Homo sapiens: one gene and its partners. The protein of the gene in region 1 purifies or fractionates together with the protein of each later gene. This does not show direct contact. Each region holds a gene or a part of one and is shown in the gene's direction. Other genes may lie near its edges.

Region 1 (3,500 bases):
CCAGGTGTGGTGGTGCACACCTGTAGTCCCAGCTGCTGAGGAGGTTGAGGTGGGAGGATTGCCTGAGCCCAGGAGTTCGAGGCTGTAGTGAGCTATGATTGCACCACTGCACCCCAGCCTGACAGAGTGAGACCCTGTCTCAAAAAAAAAACAAACAAACAAACAAAAATTATCAGATGGTACATGCTCCTTAGAGCCCTCAATCTCTCGAACTAGAGCACGTTCCAGGATCACATGGCCTTCCTTGTAACACTGGCTGTCTTCGGTGGCAAACTCGTAGATCCATCCCAGTTTGCTGCTGCAGTTTTTCAGCTCACATGTTGGACCATGTGGTGGCCAGTGAGCATGACCCAATCTAGAGCTTCATTGTACTGCAGGTTCACTACCTTGTTAAAAAGAAATGCTCTGCCAGTGGCGCCTGTGAACCAAGTGGAGATGAATTCTGAGCGGTTGGTCAGGATTGTATCACAGTTTGCATAAGAAAATGGACAGGTACCACGAATATGATCAAGGAAAATTCTGCCCATTTTTATGGCTGAAGTTCTAAAAACCCTGTGCAGCAGTGAGATCTGTGGCTGCCAGTGGCTCCTTGCTCCTCAGCTGGGATTAATAAACAAGCTCCTTTTGGGGAGGGTGGGGGAAAAAAGAAAAAAATAAATAAACAAGCTCCTTTTGAGGAGTAATAATGAAAGTTAGAATAGCTTAGTATAGAAACTAACCCTGATATGTTCAATTTGCGAAGGTATTTTTATATTAAAATATTTATTTTTGTAATATTTTTGCACATACATGTAAGCGCATGTATAAAATTGCTATTCTGTGTGTGTGTGTGTATATGTGTGCGCATGCATGCTATTGCAGGTTAAGAAGTAATAGAAACAGGAAATAACCGCAATTATTAAGGTCAGTTTTGTTTGATGCTGTAGTATATATGGAGGCCACATTCCACTACAAGCAATGGCCGGGGTATGGTGTTAATTTTTATTATAGTAGAGTTAATTGCATAAAATATTGTCCTAAATAAATGGCCTATCAAGTTTGGAAATGTCTCTATGTAACAGAATCACAGTGAAATTTGGATTTTGTTATGCTGTTTTTTATAAATGTACATAATGTGATTTGGCATGCAAAAGTGGTCCAAATCTGTTTATCCAAAATTTTCAAATTTGGTGAGTTCACTTGGACACTGTTCTCATATATTTCAGTAGAACAGTCAGTGAGAAAAGCATAAACTTTTCAAACAAATGTCTCTTTTTCAACAGGAAGACCTCTGGAGATACATTGGAGCTGATGGAGGAGTCACTGGACATAAATCTGTTGAATAATGCCATTCGCCTAAAATTCCAAAATTGCAGTGTTTTACCTGGAGGGGTTTATGTCTCTGAGACTCAGAATCGTGTGATAATCTTGATGTTAACCAATCAAACAGTGCACAGGTTACTTTTACCACACCCCTCCCGGATGTATAGGAGTGTAAGTTGGCTAAGTGCAATATCTTTTATTTCCCAAATTACTCTGGGTGTCACAAATGTAGTGCTGGAGCGATGTCTTTTGGAATTGAAGGAAATTTGGATTCTCGTTATCCCTCACCAAGCATACTTTGATAGCTACCGCTTAAAATGATCAGGCATACATTTTAAGTTGAGAATTAGTTTTCATTAAGAAGAATAGCTTTCTTAAACTTGACAGTTTTTTACTTTAAAAACTTTTTTAGCAATAGAGAGGAACTGAGCAAAATTCTGGTTATTTTGATTTAATAGATTTTTCTTTTTAATTACTCAACAGGAGTTGGTAGTTGACAGTCAGATGCAGTCAATATTCACTGACATTGGAAAAGTTGATTTCACAGATCCTTGCAACTATCAGTTAATTCCAGCAGTACCTGGAATATCTCCTAATTCCACCGCCTCTACAGCCTGGCTCAGCAGTGATGGGGAGGCCCTGTTTGCCTTACCATGTGCTTCTGGGGGAATCTTTGTTCTTAAGCTACCTCCTTATGACATACCTGGTAAGAATGGGAACTGAGCATGGATTTAACTTTAAACAAGGAATGTTAACATTGAAACAGTTCAACCTCGTCATCCAATGCAGGGATTGCATCTCTACTGCCCCGGAACTGGTCATTCATTATTGCTTGCCTAATGAGTCCCTAATGCTTTACTTTTATACAGTGGATAAGGAACTATAAAGCATATTGGAGCACGGAAAAACAAATAGACAAGTATAAGACAGCCTATTCTAAATCTTGTAGTAGAGATGGGTTGCCTAATTGTCTGCCCTGAGATGGAGGCATTATAACATTATAATTAAATTAATTGAAACAAAGACATTAAATACCCTGCACCAAGTTGCCACTGTGTCTTGCCTGGATTATTGTATTAGCTTTCTATATATCTCCCCAGATCTGTCTTAACCCTCTTCAGACACTTCTCAGGTGGACTGATATATTTAAAACCCAAGGGCCAGGCGCTGTGGCTCACGTCTATAATCCCAGCACTGTGGGAGGCCAAGGCAGGTGGGTCACCTGAGGTTGGGAGTTGGAGATCAACCTGACCAACATGGAGAAACCCCGTCTCTACTAAAAATACAAAATTAGCTGGGCATGGTGGCCCATGCCTGTAATCCCAGCTACTCGGGAGGCTGAGGCAAGAGAATCGCTTGAACCCAAGAGGTGGAGGTTGCGATAAGCCAAGATCGTGCCATTGCACTCCAGCCTGGGCAACAAGAGCGAAACTCCATCTCAAAAAGAAAAACCCAAGTTGGGTCATGTCACTGCACTGTGTAAAGCCGTCCTTTATGTAGTGCAGTGACATGACACAACTTTTCTTTTATTCTTTTTTTTTTTTTGAGATGGGATTTCTCTCTGTCGCCCAGGCTGGAGTACAGTGGCATGATCTCAGCTCACTGCAATCTCCACCTCCTGGGTTCAAGCGATTCTCCTGCATCAGTCTCCTGAGCAGCTGGGATTACAGGCATTTGCCACCATACCCAGCTAATTTTTGTATTTTTAGTAGAGACAGGGTTTCACCATGTTAGCCAGGCTGGTCTCGAACTCCTGACCTTGTGATCTGCCCACCTCAGCCTCCCAAAGTGTTGGGATTACAGGCTTGAGCCACCGCACCTGGCCTTTCTTTCTTTCTTTTGAGACAGAGTCTCACTGTCACCCAGGCTGGAATGCAGTGGTGCCATCTTGGCTCACTGCAACCTCCGCCCCCCCCAGGTTCAAGTGATTCTCATGTCTCAGCCTCCCAAGTAGCTGGAATTACAGGTGTCCACCACCACACCTGGCTAATTTTTGAATTTTTAGTAGAGATGGGGTTTTGCCACATTGACTAGGCTGGTCTCGAACTCCTGACCTCAAGTGATCCGCCTGCCTCAGCTTCCCAAAGTGCTGGGATTACAGGTGTGAGCCACGGCACCTGGCCAACATGACCCAAGGTGGGATTCAAATATATCATGTTATGCTGAATAAACCCAGAGTCCTTACACTGGCCTAGAGT
Region 2 (3,500 bases), on another chromosome or scaffold:
AGGTGGTCAGCAGAGGTCTCTTTAAGGAGGTAACATACCAAGGCCAGGTGCAGTGGCTCACTCCTGTAATCCCAGCACTTTGGGAGGCCAAGGTAGGCGGATCACCTGAGGTCTGGAGTTAGAGACCAGCCAGGCCAACATGGTGAAACCCTGTCTCTACTAAAAATACAAAAATAGCTGGGCATGGTGGTGGGCACCTGTAATCCCAGGTTGAGGCAGGAGAATCGCTTGAACCCTGGAGGTGGAGGTTGTATAGTGAGCCGAGATCGTGCCACTGCACTCCAGCCTGGGCGCAGAGCAAGACTCCGTCTCAAAAACAAAAAACAAAACAAATAAAAGGTAGAAACCAAAATTTAGAGAAGTCAGGGGTCTCACCCCAAGTCATAGAGTTATTTAAATAGCAGGGTTGGGATTCAGAACTAGCTTTCAGGCCACTGAATTTCAGAGTCCTGGCGCTTTGCCACTAACCCATCACCGTCTATCCCAAGAGGCTCCCTGAATTACTCTAACATCTTACATTTTCCAGTTTTTACGCTTTCCTTCATTTATTTATTCATGAGTTCAACAACTACTTATTTCAACTTTCAGATGACCCCAAGAGATAAGAGACCCCTAAAAGAGAAAGAGAAGGAGGGAGGGACCTGAGGCCTGCCCAGAGTTACCCAAGTAGGGAGGCTGGGCTGGGACTCAGATTTTTTTATCCTTCATCTTCCAGCCACTGTTCAGGGAACAGGCAGGGGCCTATCCCCACTCTGGGAAGAAAGGAGGGGAGTGGGAGGGAAGGCACAATGGCCCACTTAGTCTTTGGCTCCTTTGCTGTGAGTCCCTACACCTGGTTCCTGTTGTGCCCAGAGGCATGGGTCACACAGCAGACCCATGGTAACCTAGGTTGGTGACCTAGGTCACCAACAGAGCTGGTTAGCAGCTGCCAGGCCTCACCCTGGCACATGTGAGCCCAGCTGGGGGTCAGGGGCCTGGTGCTGCTAGGAGAGTCTTACCCTTCCCCCAAGTCCATGCCCAGATATGTCATCTGGCAGACTTCCCAGCCTAGGGGCTGCCACTTGGCCAAGCGAGTCTTGGAGGTTCCAGCAGAAATAATAGCAGCCGTAAGATTTCAGAATGTGACAAGCCTCACAAATGAGGGAACTCGTGGCTCCTAGGCCAGGGGAGAGCTTCCAACCCAGCCAATTTGGGAGAAATGATGAGCAAGGCCTGAGGGAGTGAGACTGCGAGAGAGGAAGCCTGGCACGCGCAGTTGCACATCACTTATTCCTGCCAGACTCTTTCTTCCCTATCTGTAAGATGGGAGGTTGGGCTCGCTCTGTATGTTATTGAGCTGGTTGTCTCTTTGACATCTATAAGAAAAGTTTCTTCAAGATCCAAGTATATACAATTCGGTGAAGCAGAGTGTGCTGACCCAGTAAGAAGTTGTGTGAGAGAAGGGATGTCTTAACAGCCATCTCGCTGAAACGGCCATGCAGGCACCCACCAGCTTAGGGTATTGCGGCTGCTGGGAGTTGGCCTCTGTGATTCAAGCATCCCTTTGACCCAAGGCCCCCTGCCCAGGCCCCAAGTGTAGACATGGCCGCCTCACCTTTCCCTGCCTGTCTTCCCCTGTCCTGCCTTTGTGCCCCCTCTGCCTGCTCCACTTGTGTTAAAGGGTGGCTGGTGAGGGAGGGCAGGAGCTGCAGGAGCTCCTGGGCGCTTTAAACTGCTTAGCATGCATTTCACAGCCTCTCTGGGGCCAGCTGTTCCTTTCTCTGCTCTCAGGGCCTGTTTGCTGATCCCCTCTCCACCTCCCTCCTCCCCACACCCCTCCCAGTCCCTGTGCAAAATTGCTTTTGAAAAGATCCACTTTCTGCTTAATTAAACAATGAGGAGGTCCCCTCGCACATCTGTAAACCTCCTTCTGAGGCCAGTTTAGCCCACAAACTGCTCCATTCTTACCCCCATTCACTTGTAAATGGCCCCTCTGATGTTCCCTCCACCCCCTCTCCTCTGTTACTCCCCCCTTGCCAGCTCTTTCTTTTCCCTTTTCAACTGAGGCCTGGGGTGGGCTCTCCGAAGAGCCGTCTTGGAGCCTGGTGGACTTGGTGGGGACAGAGGCAGTTTAACCTGTGGAAGAGAAGACTTAGGGGATCCTTTCTTCCAAATCTGAAGGGCCATCCTGGGGAAGAGGGGGTGCATTTGTTGGCATGGTCCCCGTGGACCATTCAGGCCCAGTGGGTGGGAATGACAGGAAGACAGATTTCTGCTTGGGAGAAAAGAGCTCTTAACAATCAGAGCCGCTCCACAGAGGAGCTGACCTCCTGTCCCTGGAGGTGTTCAAAGAGAGGCTGGATGAGGGTCTGTTACGCCTGCGAGTCAATATCAGATACGACTTTGAGGTTGTTCCGTTTCAGTCCCACGAGGCTGAGGCTGACACCCTTTGGGGCCCTCCCACAGTGGGCAGTCAGTGTCCCCCAGAATAGGACAAGTCCACCGGGGCGAGGGATTCTGGTGGAGCTTGCGTCGGTGCTCTCCACAGTGGGTATCCTCCCTTTGGCAGCAGCCTTTAGAAGGTACTGGAGCCCAGAGGATGAGGAATCTGAAGTCACTGTGGGCTTACAGCTCAGAGCAGCCATCTGTTGAGCGTGTCCTGTGTGTGTGACACTGCCAGGCCTGCCTTGGGCATTGTGCCTTACGTAATCCTCAGCAGCTCTTGGTGTTTGGATTATTATCCCTGCTTGTCAGAGGATGACACTGAGACAGCAAGATGAAGTGACTTCCTAGCTAAGGCCATCGAGCACACAGCCGAGGTCCTCTGGCTGTAGACTCAGAACTCAACCACTCCAGCATAGAGCAGCAGCTCTCATTGCCTGCTCTGCCCCCGATGGGCAGGCCAGGTGCCAAGGTATCCTGCACTGGAAACCTTGTATTAAGTGCCCATCTCCTTCCTCTGGTGCTGTGTGCCCGGGGGCAGCCTGGCCGCCAGCACCTACAGACTCAGAGTGTCATTCCTACCACCTGGGTTGTACTGGGAGCATTGGCCAACCCCAACATCTTGTGGGTTCAAACATCTAACACAGAAGGAAGGTCAGTATCTAGGACCCCTCACTACTCTCGCAGTCCCCTCATTCCCTTTCCAGCTTCTGATGGGAAGATACGGGATGCCACAGAAAACCCCAGCCGGTCCCAGCACTATCTGATTAATGGTTGGCTCTACCTTGCCCTCTAAAGCTGAGGTGCCAGGCCACTGGGCAGAGCGTGCAGAAACCCAGAGAGCGCGAGGGGTATAGGTTCTTCCTCTGGATCCTGGAGTAATTACAGCATTGATATGCAGGGCACAGTGCTGAGAGCTTTGTATATATCGTCTTATTTGATCCCCCACAATGACCCTATGAGACAATGTTAACATCCCCATTTTACAAAAAAAGGAAGCCGAGGCTTCCTATTACCTAAGGTAATAGAACTAGTAAGTGATGGAGTCCAGCTCAAAACCAGGCCTGTCTGACTCCAGG
Region 3 (3,500 bases), on another chromosome or scaffold:
GATTTTCATTTGTCATAAGAGAAGTATTTTAGGTGCCACTAAAATAATTTGTCAAATATTTTAATATTAGCTAAATGATTTGCAGACTACTATTGTTTAAACTGACCTTATTGGCTATAAAAAGAATGAAGGCAAAAGAAATAAAATCAGCTCTTGCAGAAAGTTTCTGGAGGAGGCTAATATTGAAAAAACTTCTGTTTGCTATTGATAAGTATAATTACTCATGTCCTTGTATAATCGTCTTCCACCAGTGAGACCACTCAGGCGGGACCATCAAGGTTCAAATGAGGCATTGATGATTAGAGCTGAGGAATGACATGAAACAGGTTATGAAGAGTAACCCCAAATATGCAGGAGGAATGGGGAGATGGTGCATGGGAGACTGTAGTCAAATGACTAGGTTGGTATGGAGAGTCTAAGTTATGTATTAATATGGGACGAGGTAGGTTAAATTAAGTGATGACAGTGAAAACCTGCATCTCATATAATTGTCAAGCAAAGCTACCATTAGTTCTTGAGCAAAGATGGCAAAACAATAATCATGAAAGAATAAGTTGCTATATGATTTTCAGTGTGCAAGTCTTTAACATTTTTGGTTAAGTTTATTCTTAAATACTTTATTCCTTTTATTGTTATTGGGGATGGGATTTTGTTTTAATTCCTTTTTTGGATAGTTTGCTGTTTGTGTACAGAAACCTGACTGATATTTTATATGTTGATTTTTGTATCCTGCCTCTTAACTGAATTCATTTATTAGTTTGAACAGGTTTTTTTGTGGCACTTTTAGGGTTTTATACATATATGATTATGTCATCGGCAAACAGAGATAATATTACTTCTTCCTTTCTGATTTGAATGCCTTTTGTTTTCTTTTTCTTGTTTAATGGCTCTGATTAAGACTTCTTGTACTATGTTAAGCAGAGGTGTTGAAAGTGGCCACCTTTGTCTTTTTCCTGATCTTAGAGCAAAAGTTCTCAGTCTTACATGACTTGGTATGATGTTAGCTGTGGGCTTTTCATAGATGGCCTTTATTGTGTTGGGGTAAATTCTTTCTGTACCTAATTTGTTGAGAGTTTTTTTTTTTTAATCACACAAGGATGTTGAATTTGTCAAATGCTTTTTATGCTCTATTTTGATGATCATGTGGCCTTTTTATATCACTTTGTTAATGTGGTGTATTACATTGATTGATTTACATATGTTGAACCATCTTTGCATGCCAGGGATAAATCAGAATTGATTAGAATATACAATCCATTTAATGTGATGGTGAATTTAGTTTGCTAGTATTTTGTTGAGGATTTTTTCATCTGTGTTCATTAGGGATGTCAGCCTGTAGGTTTTTTTTTTTTTTTTGTGGTGTCTTTGTCTGGTTTTGGTATCAGGGTGATGCTGGTCTCATAAACTGAGTTTAGAACTGCTTCTTTTTTTAAAAAAGAATTAAATCATTTATTGATTACACATGATAATGTAGAACTGTTTCTAAACTCAGGATTGGCATTAATTCCTAGAATGTTTGATAGAATTCATCTGTGAAGCCACCTGGTCCTGGGATCAGTGATGGGTCATAGGCCACTGATCCACCTACCTTTGTAGGCACAAAGGTGTCCTACACAGGGTAGAGAGATACTGTCAGCATGATTTGAATCTCAGTTTGTGCTTTCCACTGCCTCAAAACACTCACACTTTCCTACTTTCTCCTTTTTCTAACTGACTAAGTTTCCATCACATTTGCTTTCTTTCCTATAGAGTTTCAGCCGTCTCAATGTCTATGTTTTTTTCCACATCAGACCAAACTGCTTCCCCATCATTGAAATATTAAGCATCTTGGATTTCTCAAACTTTTATAGTCTGAAAATTGCTACCCTCGAGTGACTTATTAACTTCCATCTATTTGTATTTATTTATTTATTTATTTTTTGAGACCGGGTTATGAGACTGGCTAATTTTTGTATTTTTGGTAGAGATGGGGTTTCAAGGATGGTCCTGGGCTCAAGCAATCCCCTGCCTCAGCCTCCTAAAGTGCTGGGATTGGTAGTGTGAACCACCACACCTGGCCTGCATCTATTTGTAATGTTCCAAACTCTGGTTATCAGAAATTAATTGAGATTAAGGATTATGGCATCTGCTTAAAGTTGTCAAAGCATCTTTTCAGAATATGCCCAGTAAGTGTTCTTGACCGATTATGTTAATGTTTCTATTCATTCTAGTAGGGGCTGTGTCCATTTTAATTTTAAGTTTTCTACCTCTTTTCTTTCCAGATTTTTTTTCTTCAACGTTTAACCTTTGAGGTTTACTGATTGTTGATCAAAGAAACTGAACTTTCAAAAGATCAACTACAGTGATTGGAGAAAAAACTTTCATGAACTCTTGTTTACATATATAACTTTCAGATAGGGCTATTTACTTTTTTAACTTTCATTTTCTTATTTTGAATTTTTAATATAAGTGGCACATAATTGCTGGTCATCTGAATAGAAGGATGGGATTAGTAAATTAAGATTACAAAACTATTCACTAGGAAATCATAGTGCCACAGCTAAGAGAATCTTCCCAGATATTTCCTCTGGGACGATGTGAGGTATAGGATTGACAAGGAGGAAGGACAGGGGAATAGAGTGCTGTAAGTTATAAATACATCCGTATATAGATGATACATCTTATTTATACAGATTATAAATCTTGCCTGTAGATGGCTTGTGGGAGGTTACTGACTTTGAGACTCTGTGCTCCTGAGTTGGATTATAAAATTATTGAAGAAAGGAAATAAATTTTGCTTATTTCCTTGGCCTTTTATTTCTGTCAAAAACCAACCAGTTTGCTCCCAGTCCATTTGGATTCCAGAAGAGTTTCAGGTTGTAGACAAGACAGTTTTTTTTTTTTTTTAAGGATTCCATTAATCCAGAACCTTCTGTCCCACTCCTATGAATTTAGAATAGATATAAAGCTTGTGGACATGAGGATTGTCTGAACTGGTGTGCACTGGGCTGACAGATATGTCCCTTTCCATGACATTGTGTGGTGAACCTCAGCCTTTTATTATCTTTACCTACATGGAAAGTAAAATGTCCATGACAGTTAATTTATATGATGGAGCAACACGACCAGAATCCCAGAGCACCGTGTCACTGCTCACAAGCTAAAATAACCTCTACTCAAACAGATCAACCACAATTTTCAGCCCAATTTAGTTTTCTCGGTGAAACTGGGTATCCAGATGAAACATAGTTTCCAGCATCACAAGTGAGTTGATTACTCAATCATGGCTATTATGTGGTTGAATCTTTACTTTACTGTTGCCTCTGCCCAGATCATTTTTTTTAATGATCTATTGCATTCAAAAAAATGCAACCGGTCAGTTAATTTGTTTTGTAAGCCCTAGTATTGATCTATTCATTTTTTGAACACACAAAAACCTAGAATGTTTGCCTGCAGTCATTTTTTATACATACTATTATTGTATAGATAAGTAAGATATTGAATAATAGTGATAAGTTATT
Region 4 (3,500 bases), on another chromosome or scaffold:
GGCAGGCTAACATGGAAATTTGGGGTGGTCTGGTGCCTTTCTGGTCACACAGATGGCTTCATCTTCCATCCAGTCTGTTAATGCTAACACTACAGAGACCCCACCTGTCCCTGAACAGACCATGCCTTGACTCTGCTTAGCATGAATCTCTCAGACAATACTTATTCTTCAAGAATGTTCATAGTGAAAAAATACCCTTTGCCAGTCTCATAAACAACTTAGACAACTTCTTTCCCAGGACCTAGTGTTCTTATGTTCTCTGGCTTCTCAGGTTTTACAACCTGAAATACACAGGACAGAGCCACACAATAAAGAGTTGTCTGCCCAAAATGCCAGTGTCACCCCTACTGAGAAATACTGCAAGTTCTTCCCCACCCCACCATCAAATTTATGTATTGTGTCCCATTCACTTTCTGCTAAATCTGATAAATTAATCTCATGGTAAGGTGTTAGGGACTAGCGAAAGCTTATTTTATTCTCTTCTAAAGAATGCATTGAATGGGACCTTCCATGCCTTCTTCCAAAAGGAGCAACTCAAATGGCAGATACCCAGGCAAATGGAGGGTTGGTAAGAGAGTTGGTTTGGAAGCAAGAGAGTCTTTCTTTTGGTATCCCATTCCTTCCACATGCCATCCCTGCACCACAATACAGTCCAAATAAAATTCTGAGCTTGTGACCATTGCCACCTTATACCTGCACACCCCTTCCCTATCCTATGGCTAGCCCCTCTATCAGCAGTACAAGAAAGCAAGAAGCTGGAAAGGAAAGAATGGGTGGTTTGCTGTGGATGTCCATGTCCTCCACCTTCCCAGAAGGAATCTGCAAAAGCAGCTCTGGAAGCTAACTCCAACTCAGATTCAAACAGAAAGCAGACTGAATTCTTTCAACCCTTCTTGTTTATACTCCATGCTTCTAGTTAGAGAGCAGTGTCACTAAGCTGAGGAAAAAGTCTTTTAGGACAAATCTGGTTCCCAGCTGCACGGCCTTGTGTGAATAGGAACTTGGCACAGTAGGAAGGGAAAGGTTGCTCTGCAAAGAACTGAGGGGCCTACAATTGCAGCTGGCAAATATTGAGGGCATCATGTGGTGAACATACTCAGCATGGGAAGCATCATGCCAATAAATAGCAACAATTGGCAGGAGAAAGGTTGGGCTGGAGCAGGGAATGGAATGGTCCCAAAAGGAGAAGGTTGCCCAGGAATCATCTTTCTCATCTTAAGAAGCACTGTGAGTGCCATCTTAATATATTCAGTGGGAATCAGAAGGTCTGAATTCCAGGTCTGACTGTAAATTGTGTGACCTTGGGAAAATGGCTCCCTCTATTGAGGCCTCGGTGTCCTTTTTTTGTATTAGAAAAGGATGAATTCGAGTTTACTAACCGCAGGCCTCTGGGTCAGATTTGGCCAGTGGATGTATTTCAGTCGGCCTGCCCAGTATTTTGTTTGTTTGTTTCAACAGTTCGAATGCCTTGTTTGCGTTGACTTTTCCGTTCCCTGCAGTCCCCATATCTGTTATGAGCTTACCACTACTTACCAGCCCCTCCCAGCCATTTCCCATATTTCCAATATCCATCGGGCTCCTGAAGGCCCCTTAACCTTAGAAACCACAAACCAAACTATCTCACAGAGGTCTTATAATTAATGTGCAATTATGACTCCACCCATCAGCCTCTAGCGTCACCCTGGGGGCAGGCAGAGAGGACCTTGGGAGAAAGCAGGGCAGTCTACCATGAACCCAAGCACAAAGTGCAGGTGGGTAAAAAATTAACAAGCGCCCCTTAAGGGAACACTGGGATGGATTTCCTTAAAAAAATCACCTCCTCCCCACCTCCACCCAAAGATGTGGCCCATTGTACATCCGGGGCTTTTTCTGGATCTCCATTGCTTTGACGTCTAAATTGATAATATTCTTTCTTTGAAAAGTGTACAAGCCACACAGGATCATGGGCCAGGCTTTGGCCACTGTTCAGCTTTGATTTTTAAAAGAGTTATTCTTTTATGGAAAGTGGAATCAAGTTGTAGCCCTTCCTATATGATTAGATAAGCAGTTTCAGGAAAACACTTCTTTCTTTTTTTCTTTACAAGGACAGTGTGACTGTGTGGACTTCCCCTTAACAGAAAGCCCCTCCATGTATGTGTCTGGCTGCTGCTGTCTACCCCTAGGTACTTTACTTCTTACAGAGAACTGTGAAGCCAAAGCCTTGGCTCTTTTAGGTCTCCATTGTTAGCCCTCACTACCCCCATTTCTGTCTCTAATACCTTTTAGTGTCAATCGTGAGAGGGCAAAATGTATTAGACTACAGCATGAGGAGCTAGCATGTAAGAGGTAGTAAAGGTCTTTTTCATGGGTAAGGTTCCAGGGCCTCATTGCTTATATACTCATTTCACCTTGACTCATGCCCAACTATGGGACTTTTACAGTGGGCATGGACACATGGATACAGTGGACACTTTTACTTCTTCTCATATCCTAATTCTGGCCTAAAACACACCATTTTGGCCTCAAGATCTCTGCAGAAATAAGGTCCTTTTCACCTGGATCCTCTGGGACTTGCTGTGGGCCTCAGGCGTGACTGATGTTGTATCTCATTGTGATGTCATCAAGCATCAGTATAAAACAGGGCTGATGTTTTACACTGTCCACAGTCTCCTTGGGAGGAGGGGAAGTGGCCAGATGTTGAGGCTGTGAAGGGCACTCTTGATGGACAGCAGGCTGAACTCCAGGTAAGAAACAACAAGACCTCAAACTGTCAATTAGAAAGTAAATAAGCCCCATGCTGCCTAGTGAAATTGAAAGCCTGATAGCGTGGGTGCCAACTCAAATGAAAGTAATCCTCTGATGTATTGAACCTCCTTCTGTCCCACTTGAATACCTGGAGTTAATCCTGGCTTTCTGGTTTGGAAGTCAAACAAGACCATTCTGGGGCAAGAGTTTGTGATTTCAGTAGGTGTGAATGAATGAATTATAAATGGCTGCATTTATAATGCAAGCAAGAAAACACGTTGATGTTAGAAAAAACGGGAGAGAAACAAATAGTTTTCTCTGTAAATGTACTCTTTTCCTGGGATTTTTCCCTCAAAATCCAGCTTTCTGCCTTAGTTTTAAAATATATTGACTTTCTGCTTAAAGGAGAATACATTTGAATTCATCTAGACAATATCTTTTGGTTTTCTAATTGCTTTCCCTCTTTTATTGGCCTGTTAAGGTAAAGCCCACAGTACAAGGAATTAGGAAAATTGGATTCCAGATCTGTCTCAACCGTCAATTTTGCCTTTTATTTTTTAACCTCTCTGGGCTTTGGTTTCTTCTGTAAACTGAGGGAAGTGAATTAAATGAACTGTAAGGCCTTCCAGTAGATTTTATGAAAAATTAGTCTCACCAGACTAAGACAATACAGTTTATTGAACAATAACAATCACTTGAATAATATACATTTACATGAAACCAACAAAACATGTACATAGAAGGTGTGTATTATGAAGGGACCTCAGGAATTACCT
Region 5 (3,500 bases), about 40 Mb from region 1:
ATCCATTCATGGATGTTCAGATTGATGCTATAGTGTGGCTATTGTGAATAATGCTGCAGTGAACATGGGAGTGCAGATATCTTTTTGACATACTGATTTCTTATCTTTTGGATATATATCCAGTAGTGGGATTACTGGATCATATGATAGTTCTATTTTTAATTTGTTGAGGAGCCAGTATACTGTTTTCCATAGTGACTGTACTAGTTTACATTCCCAGCAATAGTATATAAGGGTTCCCTTTTCTCTACATCCTTGCTGACACTTATTATTGCCTTTTGTCTTTTTGATAATAGCCATTCTAACAGATGTGGTGATATTGTGGTTTAAATTTTCATTTCTTGAATGTTTAATGATGTTGAGCACTTTCTCATATGCCTGTTGACTATTTTTCTGTCTTCTCTTGAGAAGTGTCTATTTATATCCTTTGCCCATTTTTAAATTGGGTTTTCTTTTGCTGTGGAGTTGAGTTCCTTATATATTTTGCATATTAACCCATTATCAAATATATGGTTTGCAAATATTTTCTCCCATTACATAGATTGTCTCTTTACTGTTGTTTCCTTTGCTGTACAGAAACTTTCAGTAATCCCATTTGTCTATTTTCACTTTTGTTGCATGGGCTTTTGGTGTCATATCCAAAAATATCATTGTCCAGACCAATGTCATGGAGCTTTTTCCCTAGGTTTTCTTCTAGTAGTTTTACAGCTTCAGGTCTTATGTTTAAGTCTTCAGTGCATTTTGAGTTGATTTTTGTAAATGTGAGGTGTGAGATGAGGGTCTAATTTCACTGTTTTGCATGTGGATATCTAGTTTCCCCACACCATTTATTGAAGAGATTGTCCTTTGACCTTTTTGTGTTTGTCCTTTGACCTGTGTGTGTGTGTGTTTTATTTTTTGGCATCTTTGTTTAAAAAAATTGACCATAAATATGTGGATTTATTTCTGGGCTTTTATTCTGTTCCATCAGTCTGTGTGTCTGTTTTTATGCCAGTAACATACTGTTTTGATTACTATAGCTTTGTAGTAGATTTGGGAATCAGGTACTGTGATGCCTCTGGCTTTGTTCTTTTTGTTCACAATTGCTTTGGCCATTTGGGGTCTTTTGTGGTTCCATATGAATTTTAGAATTGTTTCTTCTATTTCTGTGAAAATTGTCATTGAAATTTTGATAGGGATTGTATTAAATCTGTAGATTGCTTTGTATAGTATGGACATTATAGCAGTATCAATTCTTCCAATCCATAAACGGGACATCTTTTCATTTTATTTGTGTCTTCTTCAATTTCTTTCATCAATGTTTTATAGTTTTCATTTCAGCCTCCCAAGTAGCTGGGATTACAGGCATGCACCACCATGCCGAGCTAATTTTGTATTTTTAGTAGAGGTGGAGTTTCACCATGTTGGTCAGGCTGGTCTCGAACTCCTGACCTCAGGTGATCCACCTGTCACAGCCTCCCAAAGTGCTGGGATTACAGGCGTTAGCCACCGCACCTAGCCTATACTTTCATATATATATATATGTATATTTGTGTTACTGAATAGTGTCCCTTGCTCTCTACTTGAAGAACACCCTTGAGCATTTTTTATAAGATAGATCTTGTGGGGATAAGCTCCTTCAGCTTTTGTCTGGCAGAGTCTTTGTTTTTTCCTCATTTCTGAAGGAGAGCTTTGCCAACTACAATATTCTTGGTTGACCTTTTTTTTTTTTGTTTTTGTTTTTGTTTTCCGTAAGCATTTTGAATATATTATCCCACTCTTTTCTGGCCTTTAAGGTTTCTGCTGATAAATCTGTTAGAACTCCCTTATAATGTGATGTACTTTTTTTCTTTTGCTGCTTCCAGCATCCTCTCTGTCTTTGATTTTTGATAGTTTGATTATAATACTTCTTGATATAGTCTTACTTGAGTTCAGTCTGATTGGAGACTTTTGACCTTCTTGTACCCAGATATTTATAACTTTCCCCAGATTTGTATAGTTTTCTGCTATTATTTCTTTAAGCTTTCTATCCCTTTGTGTCCGTCTCCTCCTTCTTGAACTCCAGTTCCCATAAATCCCATAAGCTTGCTTTCTTTTCATTCTTTTTTTCTCATCCAACTGTATATTGTCAAATAATCTGTCTTTAGATTCAAAGGTTCATTCTTTTGCTCAATCAGTTCTGCTGTTGATACTCTCTATTGCATTTTTCATTTCAATTCTCGTATTTTTCAGCTGTAGAATTTCTGTTTGATTTTTTTAATATAATTTCAATCTCTCGTAAATTTTTTGTTTTAGTTATTTATTGTTTTCCTGGTTTCCTTTAATTGTTTCTCTGTATTTTCTTGAAGTTCGCTGAGTTTCCTTAAAACAGTTATCTTGAATTCTTTGTCAGGCAGTTCATGTGTCTTCTTTTTCTTTCTTTCTTTCTTTTTTTTTTTTTGAGATGGAGTTTTGTTCTTGTTGCCCAGGCTGGAGTGCAATGGCTTGATCTTGGCTCACTGGAACCTCTGCCTCCTGGGTTCAAGCGATTCTTCTGCCTCAGCCTCCTGAGTAGCTGGAATTACAGGCGCCTGCCACCACGCCCGGCTAATTTTTTGTATTTTTAGTAGAGATAGGATTTTACCATGTTGGCCAGGTTGGTTTTGAACTCCTAACCTCAGGTGATCCATTTGTCTTGGCCTCCTAAAGTGTGTGAGATTACAAGCGTGAGCCATCACGCCCGGCCGTATCTTCATTTCTTTAGAGTCTGTTCCTGGTGCTTTATTTTGTTCATTGGTGGCAACATGTTTCCTTGATTGTTCTTGATCCTCATGGCTATGCATTGGTATCTGTGCATTTGAAGAAGCAGGGACTTTTGCTGGTGAATGGTTTTTGCATTCTGGCTTTGTCCGGAAAAGCCATTCACCAGTCAGCCTGCCCAGAGATTCTGGGTAGGCCATTTGGTGTGATCTGCAGGTAGACTTGCTGGTAGAGTCCTTAGGCAGGGTGGCCTGGTGTTGAGTCCGTGGGGTTGGGGTTGAAGCCTGGATCCACTGGGGTGTACCTGTTGATTGGATCCTCAGGCATGGACCTGGTGCTTGTATCTTGTGCAGAGAGGCTATCCCAAAGCCTAGGTCCACAAGGGCTGACCTGGGGCTGGACTGGGCCTTGAGCCTGGGTCTTCAGAGATTGGCCAGGTGCTAGGATGAACCTGGTGCCCGGGTCCACTGAAATGGGCCTGGAGGCTGAGTCTGATGGATGTGTCTGAAGGCTAGGTTCATTAGGGCTGGCTTGGGTCCTGGGGCCACAGGCCTCAGCCTAGAACCTAGGTCCATAGGGGCAGTCCTGGGGTTCTGAGGGCCGGCCCAATGCTGGGGTCTACTGGGTTGGGCTAGACCCAGGGTCTGCTGGATTGTGGGAATGCAGGGGCCAACCTGAAGGTGGGGGTGGTCATAGAGACTAGCCTGGCACTGGGCAGGCCTGGAGCCTGTGTCTGCAGGCTCCAATTTGGGTGCCATTGGGGTGCCAATTTGGCACTGGGC
Region 6 (3,500 bases), on another chromosome or scaffold:
TATCAGATAACCATCTGTGGCTCTGTGTTGGATTTTTTTTATACCATTAGGAAAATGGGAATTTTTTTATAGGCCTGCCATACTTCTACTTTGCCAAATAGCACTTTATTATCAAGATACACCCATGGCTCATTTCAGACTCACTGAACTTTTTTTATATGAATGCACAGTCGTCATATTTTGGGCAGTCTGTGAGTTCTTGGTAACTCATCCCCTTACTACAAAAGCACTAAGTGAACAATACAAAAGTATAAAAGCACAAATTTGAACTTACATAGTTTAGTTTAAGTATGTTTCACTAGAAAATCAAATATTTAGATTTCTCACATTGAAAATGCTTAGGATTGAGGTTTAGCTGCTTCCTTTAAAAAAAAAAAAAAAAAAAAAGCCCCATGTCTTTTTTCTTTACCTACTGGAGTATTCTCAGACCATTTCCTACATGAAAACACCCACCTGCATTCCTTTAGTCCCCTGTATGGTCTCTTTGAGGATCAGTGCCCACTAGGTTGTCTTGTAGGTGGACTAATCTACAGATCACCTTTACCTTCAGTATTTTCAGGAACAAGTGAATCATGGAGTCAAATAAGAGCTTTGTTTTGTTCACTTGACTCACCACTTGACTGTATTCCCTGAAAATGTTAAATGATAGTTCTCTAAAAAGACCAGGTCAAGCTAGCAGCCTCTAGGCTTCCATCCATGTCACAGCTGGGCACCTGCTTGGGTGCACCTTCTGTGTTGGTGTCCTGCGGACTGCACTCCAGGAGCAGTCAGCCTGTGCTCCTGAGTCTCCCCTCCCCAGGCCCTGGAGGAATGGGGAGTGAACCCACTTAGTTGCTGAGGCCTGCAGTTCTTCTGGATATTTTAGTGACCTCACAGACAGCAAATTAAAACAGGAGCTGATTTAAGAAAAGAAGTGCTGGTACCAAAAAAGAACTTTCTGTTTTTACCTTGGGATAATTTTTTATAAGCAAGTCAAAGGGACTCTCTTTAAGTTACTGATGGAGAAGATATTTGAGGTTTTTTGGGGGGCCATTTTTAGTGGCTCTGATATATCCAAGCTCTTTTAGACACTTTAGAATGAAGAGCTGTTCTAATGTTCCAAAATCTATTCGTTGGTCAAAACATTTGGTAGCATATGAAGCTTTATACAGACTAGGGATATTGGAAAAGAAATGTGACTTTTAAAATGACACCTAAAACATGCATTCGGTGTCTGGTCTGTTAACTAGGGGCCATCTGGGTCAATAACAAGTTACCTCATGGAGAAAATGCAATAGGACCAAACAAGGAAGGAAATAGGAAGTAACTCAGTCTCTCTTGGGTTTAATGCTAACCTGCTAAGGTCAGGCAAAATTTAAGTGGATTTAGAAACCATAAAACCTTCTAGTGAGATGAATGCAGTGACAAAGGACCTTTGACCAGAGAGTCAACTCTTCATTATTCGGACTTTAAAGCCATCTTTTTGGAGGTGATATTGTATTAGGCAATCCGTTATTTACTAGACATTGCAGAGCACCCCTTCTAGATGATGAGGCGGATATAGGGGGAGTGAGGGCTGTGGTCCATTCGGTTGGGAAGATGGAACACGCAGATAAATCAGTGTGTGCTACAGTTCCACCGGTAACTTCACTCTCATAAGGTGGATTCCAGAAGCATCTTGTTTCCATTATCCCCCCAGTCCTCTTCCTCTCATCTAGCCAGTGGCTGTAATACTGAGGTGGAGAGAACAGTCATTGTTTAAGCTGGCTATCTTTTGGCCTGAGGGTTTGGGGTATGTTGATATTTGTCGGTTACTATGACTTCTTTTTTTTCCCCCCTCAATTGCATCAAACCCTTAAAACATGGTGGTAAGTGAGCGATATGCATGCTTTTGGAGTTTGTTTAATCTCCGCTTCAGTCTATACGATGCACAGTTCATAATGTTAACACTTTTCTTCAAGTTTACTTCATTCACTTTCACAACTAATTTGGATTTCAGTTTGCTGTTTAATCCTCATTTACTTTGGTTTCTGTATCTTTTTTCTGTAATTCTGTTCTTTCCCTCTCCCCTGACTTCCCTGTTAGGGGTCAAGTCGTTTTTTTGTCTGACCTGTAGGGGAGAGTGGTGCTGCAGATAGTGATTCAGTCCAGGAGAGTGGGGAGACATGAGGCTCTTTTGTTTGTCAGTGTGAAAGTGGATTTGGGGAGACAGATGAAGAGGGCTCCTGGGATTTTGCCCCCTTGTGAATCTCAACTGCTCCCACTTGCAGGCATGGCAGCTATGCCGGAGGCACTGTCGCTAAAACACCTCCATGCAACCCTTTGCATGTTACCAGCTTGTTGGGCTGGAAAGTGACATTACTAATCAGACACCAGGGAATACCCACACTCCAAAAGGAAAAACAGCCCGTGGTGTGAGGTGCTTGGGTTGGTGCCTACAGTGTCATGCTTTGAAAAGATTAGCCTGGCTATTGCGATTCTCCCTCCCCTGCTTTTTATTTTAAATTTGGGAGTAGATTGGTGTATTCTTGATTCGGCTCTCTTGCATTAGAATTTTGTATTTTCGAGTGCACAGCCAGAGCACTAAAAGTATTCCAAGTTTGCTCCTATGTCTTTTCATTTAAATCCCCAAAGTGCTTAGTTCCTAGCATGTAGCTGAGCTGGCTTGGCCGGGATGCTGAGCATTAGGATGTTGTGAGGGGAGAATTTAGGCTGGGCTTTTGTGTCTTAGTACCTGGTATGTCTTTGTATCTCTCCACTGCATACACAGCACACAGATGTCTTGGGTGTCCTTAAGTCTTAGTTTGTTCTCTGTACCCGTTTGATAGTGTATACTGTTGTTAGTAGTGGACTCCTGTGGACACTAGTGTGTCGCTAGCCTATTGTTTTGGCTGATGAGTCATTGGTTTGTGGTTAGTTCTTTTTTTTGAAATCCTTTTTTGCTCCAGTCACTGTGTGTGCTGGCGGTGGCTTTGCCTCTCCGTTGCCTCGAAGGAACAGGTGGAGCAATGTCTCCCTCTGACAGACATTACTCCCGACATGTGCTCCTGCAGATGCCTACACTGAGACTGTAATCTCCATAACTGCTTCATGTGCACCAAGCCCCCTTGTGGAATCCTGCTGAGAATTTTTCTAGAAGCCTTCAGTGAAATCAAACTGTTCTGAATCATTTAGTTTACCTGACTTTTGTATAATAAAAACAAACTAAGAGCACTTACTTGTTCCCTTCCCCTTGTGGGTCTTTTTAAAACATTCTCTCTCTGTGAATGTGTATCTCTGCTTAAAGGGGATCAAGTTGCACTTAGTTGAAACACGAAAGACTTATAAATCAGAATCATAAAGTATCAATTTAAGAAGGCTTAAACTCATATAATGTCAGCTTTTTGATTTTAAAAAAGTTATCTCATGGCTCCCCTGGGTTTGGCTTCTGGTTTTGGCCAGGGCACAGGAGTGAGCCTGTCTTTCTGAAGTCTTTTCTAGAGGGATGTCACCACTGTTCAGCTTTCCTCGGTGTGTCACAG
Region 7 (3,500 bases), on another chromosome or scaffold:
TGTTTCCCCCACCAGCCCTTGGCAACCGCCATTCTGTTTTTTGTTTCTATGAATTTGACTACTCTAGGTACCTCCTATAAGTGATGCCATGCAATATTTGTCTTTTTGTGACTGGCTTATTTCACTTAGTCAAGTGTCTTCAGTGTTCATCTCTGTTGTAGCAGGTGTCAGAATTTCATTCTTTTTTAAGGCTGAATAATTTCAGTGTATATACATACCATATACTTTTTAATCCATTAATTCATTGGTGGACACTTGGGTTGCTTCCACCTTCAGGCTATTGTGAATAATGCTGCTGTGACCATGATGTACAGATACCTGTTTAAGTTCTGGCTTTCATTTCTTTTGGGTATGTACCCAGACGTGTAATTGCTGGATCATATGTTGAATTTTTCAGGAATTGCCATACATATTGCCACAGCAACTGGACCATTTTTCATTCCCATTAGCAATGCATGAGGGTTCCAGTTTTCTATATCCTCACCATCACTCATTTTCTGCTTTTTAATTTTTTGATAGTAGTCATTATAATAGGTATGAAGTGGTATTTCAGTGTGATTTTTATTTGCATTGCCCTAATGATTAGTGATGTTGAGCATCTTTTCCTGTGCTTTTTGGCCATTTCTGTATCCTTTTTCTCACTTTTAAAAGTGAAGTCTGCTAGTGTTGCCAGTTTTCCAAGAACTCTGCTTTCCAAGAATGTGATTTTTTGAACTTGTATATTTTGCCAGTATGAGAGAATTGGAGAGTAACAGGACTATATACTCACAAACCTAATTCCAGAGTGACTAACAGTGATTGTTATGTAGTAAGCACATTCTGGGTAAATACTCTGGAAAGTATTCTATAAATTAGAAATCCATCTCTGTCTGTAGAATAACATAAGGAAGTATAATCAGAAATAGACTTCAGTAATGTGTATTTGCTCTTGATTTTCTAGGAAGTAATTTATGGAATATAAAGAAAATGTAGGAGGAATTTCTTTTCTAGGATTTTATTTTTTTTGGCCATTGCCTTAAGAGAAACCAGGATAAACACTATATGCATGCTAAGGGTAGTTATTGATTTAATTTTCTATAGTATTGCTTTGACTAAATTGGGTTAATTTTATTTGGAGTACAATATAAAATATGGTTGAATTTTGTGAGTTGTTTTAAATAATGAAGTCAAAGAGGTGTCCTTAAGGTCTTTAATTTCAGGGGAGTTTGAATACGATAATTATACAAACAGTGATTATGTAACTCATCTTTTAATATGTCATTTTTGAATGCTCAGATATGCATTAATAACCACTCGTTTTGTGCATGCATTATCAGAATGTTTATTATATGCATCATAATCTTTGATTTATAAATAATACTGCATTAATTCTTAGCGTTTTAAAGTCTGTTCACTTGCAAAACTGCAACATAATGTGAAGGGAAAGTTTTTGTTTTGCCCTATTTCTTTTTTTTTTGAGATGGAGTTTTGCTCTTGTTGCCCAGGCTGGAGTACAGTGGTGCGATCTCAGCTCACTGCAACCTCTGCCTCTTGGTTCAAGTGATTCTCTTGCCTCAGGCTCCTGAGTAGCTGGGATTGCAGGTGCCCACCACCACACCAAGCTAATTTTTTTGTATTTTTAGTAGAGACGTGTTGAGACCAGCCAGGCTGGTCTCAAACTCCTGACCTCAGGTGATCCACCTGCCTTGGCCTCCCAAAGTGCTGGGATTACAGGCGTCAGTCACTGCGCCCAGCCTATTTTGCCCTATGTCTAATAGGTGGGGTTTTGAAATCTGTATCACTGATGTTATTTCCTGTAGAAAGCAACACCACCTGTAATTCTGTATAAATCTACCTGGTTTTTCCGTATCTGTGTGTTAGGAAATTATAGGATGAACTTTGCAAAGATAGACATTTACATTTTCTCCATCTTTATATGCTTTTGTGAAAGTGTTCTTGGAGAGCCTTAACATTTTTGAGGCTGGGTATGGTGGCTCACACCTATAATCCCAGCACATAGGGAGACAGAGTTGGGAGGCTCGCTTAAGCCCAAGAGTTTGAGACCAGCCTACGCAACATAGTGAGACCTCATCTGTACAAATAATTTAAAAAATTAGCCAGGGTGGTGGTGTACACCTGTGGTCCCAGCTACTTGGGAGGCTGAGGCAGAAGGATTGCCCGAGCCCAGGAGGCTGAGGCTGCAGTGAGCTGTGATTGTTCCACTGTGTCCAGTGTGGCTGACAGAGTGAGACCTTTGTCTCAAAATAAAAACATTTTTTTCTTTGAGTCTAAAAGATTCTTACTCATTCACTGATAGGGAAAACCTAGTAGAGGTTTAGTGCCTTACTTACTTGATAAGAAAGTAAAATCTTGGGGGAGGCCGACAGGGGGCGGGTCATTTGAGGTCAAGAGTTTGAGACCAGCCTGGCCAACAGGGTAAAACCCCATCTCTGCTAAAAATCCAAAAATTCGTGGATGTAGTGGTGTGCATCTATAATCCCAGCTACTCAGGAGGCTGAGGCAGGAGAATCACTTGACCCCGGGAGGTGGAGGTTGCAGTGAGCTCATATTGTGCCACTATAAACTCTGTCTTAAAAAAAAAAAGAAAGTCAAGACTTGGATACTTTCCTTACACTTACACAGCAGGACATGAAGCAAGCCTTGACTGTTATCTAGGTAAGTTGTTGAGTAAGACAGTCAAACTAAACAGTTAGGCAAACACACAAACACACACACAAATTTATGTTAATAATAATCAGTGGTAGTAGCACCTGGCTGGGTGATTTATGTTCTCTCCTCACCCCAGCCTCCTGTGCCTCATTTCCTTGCGTTGACTTTAAGCAATTCTGTAAGTTTAGATTTGGGTGAACGTTTTCTGAAGAATACTGCCTCTTTGAAGATGGAATTATAGTGAAAGTAGCATTGTTATTTCTTTTGTTTGTTTGTTTTTCTGAGACAGAGTCTCGCTCTGTCACCCAGGCTGGAGTGCAGTGGCGCAATCTCGGCTCACTGCAACCTCTGCCTCCCAGGTTCAAGTGATTCTCCTGCCTCAGCCTGCGGAGAGTAGCTGGGATTACAGGTGTCTGCCACCACATCCGGCTGATTTTTATATTTTTAGTAGAGACGGGGTTTCTCCATGTTGGCCAGGCTGGTCTCGAACTCCTGACCACAGGTGCGTCCGCCTGCCTAGGCCTCCCAAAGTGCTGGGATTCTTGGCATGAGCCACCGCGCCCGGCCGCCATTGTTATTTCTTGTCTCACAATTCATTATACATTTCCGAGGCATTTTGCAGATAGTTTGTACATTCACTTTTAGATATTCTTACAACTATGATGACTAGACGGAGTTTAGCTCTTGTTGCCCAGGCTGGAGTGTAATGGTGCGATCTCGGCTCACCACAGCCTCTGCCTTCCGGGTTCAAGCCATTTTCCTGCCTCAGCCTCCCAAGTAGCTGGGATTACAGGCATGCGCCTCCATGCCCGGCTAATTTTGTATTTTTAGTAGAGATGGGGTTTCTCCAT

The links.
Region 2: the proteins of NUP160 (region 1) and URM1 purify together in Homo sapiens (co-immunoprecipitation; one study listed by IntAct). This does not show direct contact.
Region 3: the proteins of NUP160 (region 1) and CD226 purify together in Homo sapiens (co-immunoprecipitation; one large-scale study listed by IntAct). This does not show direct contact.
Region 4: the proteins of NUP160 (region 1) and VSIG1 purify together in Homo sapiens (co-immunoprecipitation; one large-scale study listed by IntAct). This does not show direct contact.
Region 5: the proteins of NUP160 (region 1) and RIC3 purify together in Homo sapiens (co-immunoprecipitation; one large-scale study listed by IntAct). This does not show direct contact.
Region 6: the proteins of NUP160 (region 1) and NPTN purify together in Homo sapiens (co-immunoprecipitation; one large-scale study listed by IntAct). This does not show direct contact.
Region 7: the proteins of NUP160 (region 1) and PPP2R5E fractionate together in Homo sapiens (co-fractionation; one large-scale study listed by BioGRID). This does not show direct contact.

The regions. Positions count from the first base shown.
Region 1 is NC_000011.10:47,838,351-47,841,850, reverse strand, and holds part of NUP160 (nuclear pore complex protein Nup160), read left to right. Parts: intron 1-163; exon of another isoform or gene 164-607; intron 608-1,262; coding exon 1,263-1,473; coding exon of another isoform or gene 1,474-1,623; exon of another isoform or gene 1,624-1,785; coding exon 1,786-2,008; exon of another isoform or gene 2,009-2,350; intron 2,351-3,500. UniProt on the Homo sapiens protein: Functions as a component of the nuclear pore complex (NPC). Involved in poly(A)+ RNA transport.
Region 2 is NC_000009.12:128,381,374-128,384,873, forward strand, and holds part of URM1 (ubiquitin-related modifier 1), read left to right. Parts: intron 1-3,500. UniProt on the Homo sapiens protein: Acts as a sulfur carrier required for 2-thiolation of mcm(5)S(2)U at tRNA wobble positions of cytosolic tRNA(Lys), tRNA(Glu) and tRNA(Gln). Serves as sulfur donor in tRNA 2-thiolation reaction by being thiocarboxylated (-COSH) at its C-terminus by MOCS3.
Region 3 is NC_000018.10:69,888,874-69,892,373, reverse strand, and holds part of CD226 (CD226 antigen isoform a precursor), read left to right. Parts: intron 1-3,500.
Region 4 is NC_000023.11:108,062,065-108,065,564, forward strand, and holds part of VSIG1 (V-set and immunoglobulin domain-containing protein 1 isoform 2 precursor), read left to right. Parts: intron 1-2,645; coding exon of another isoform or gene 2,646-2,723; intron 2,724-3,500.
Region 5 is NC_000011.10:8,113,526-8,117,025, reverse strand, and holds part of RIC3 (protein RIC-3 isoform a precursor), read left to right. Parts: intron 1-3,500. UniProt on the Homo sapiens protein: Molecular chaperone which facilitates proper subunit assembly and surface trafficking of alpha-7 (CHRNA7) and alpha-8 (CHRNA8) nicotinic acetylcholine receptors.
Region 6 is NC_000015.10:73,563,890-73,567,389, reverse strand, and holds part of NPTN (neuroplastin isoform b precursor), read left to right. Parts: exon of another isoform or gene 1-452; intron 453-3,500. UniProt on the Homo sapiens protein: Probable homophilic and heterophilic cell adhesion molecule involved in long term potentiation at hippocampal excitatory synapses through activation of p38MAPK. May also regulate neurite outgrowth by activating the FGFR1 signaling pathway.
Region 7 is NC_000014.9:63,533,378-63,536,877, reverse strand, and holds part of PPP2R5E (serine/threonine-protein phosphatase 2A 56 kDa regulatory subunit epsilon isoform), read left to right. Parts: intron 1-3,500. UniProt on the Homo sapiens protein: The B regulatory subunit might modulate substrate selectivity and catalytic activity, and might also direct the localization of the catalytic enzyme to a particular subcellular compartment.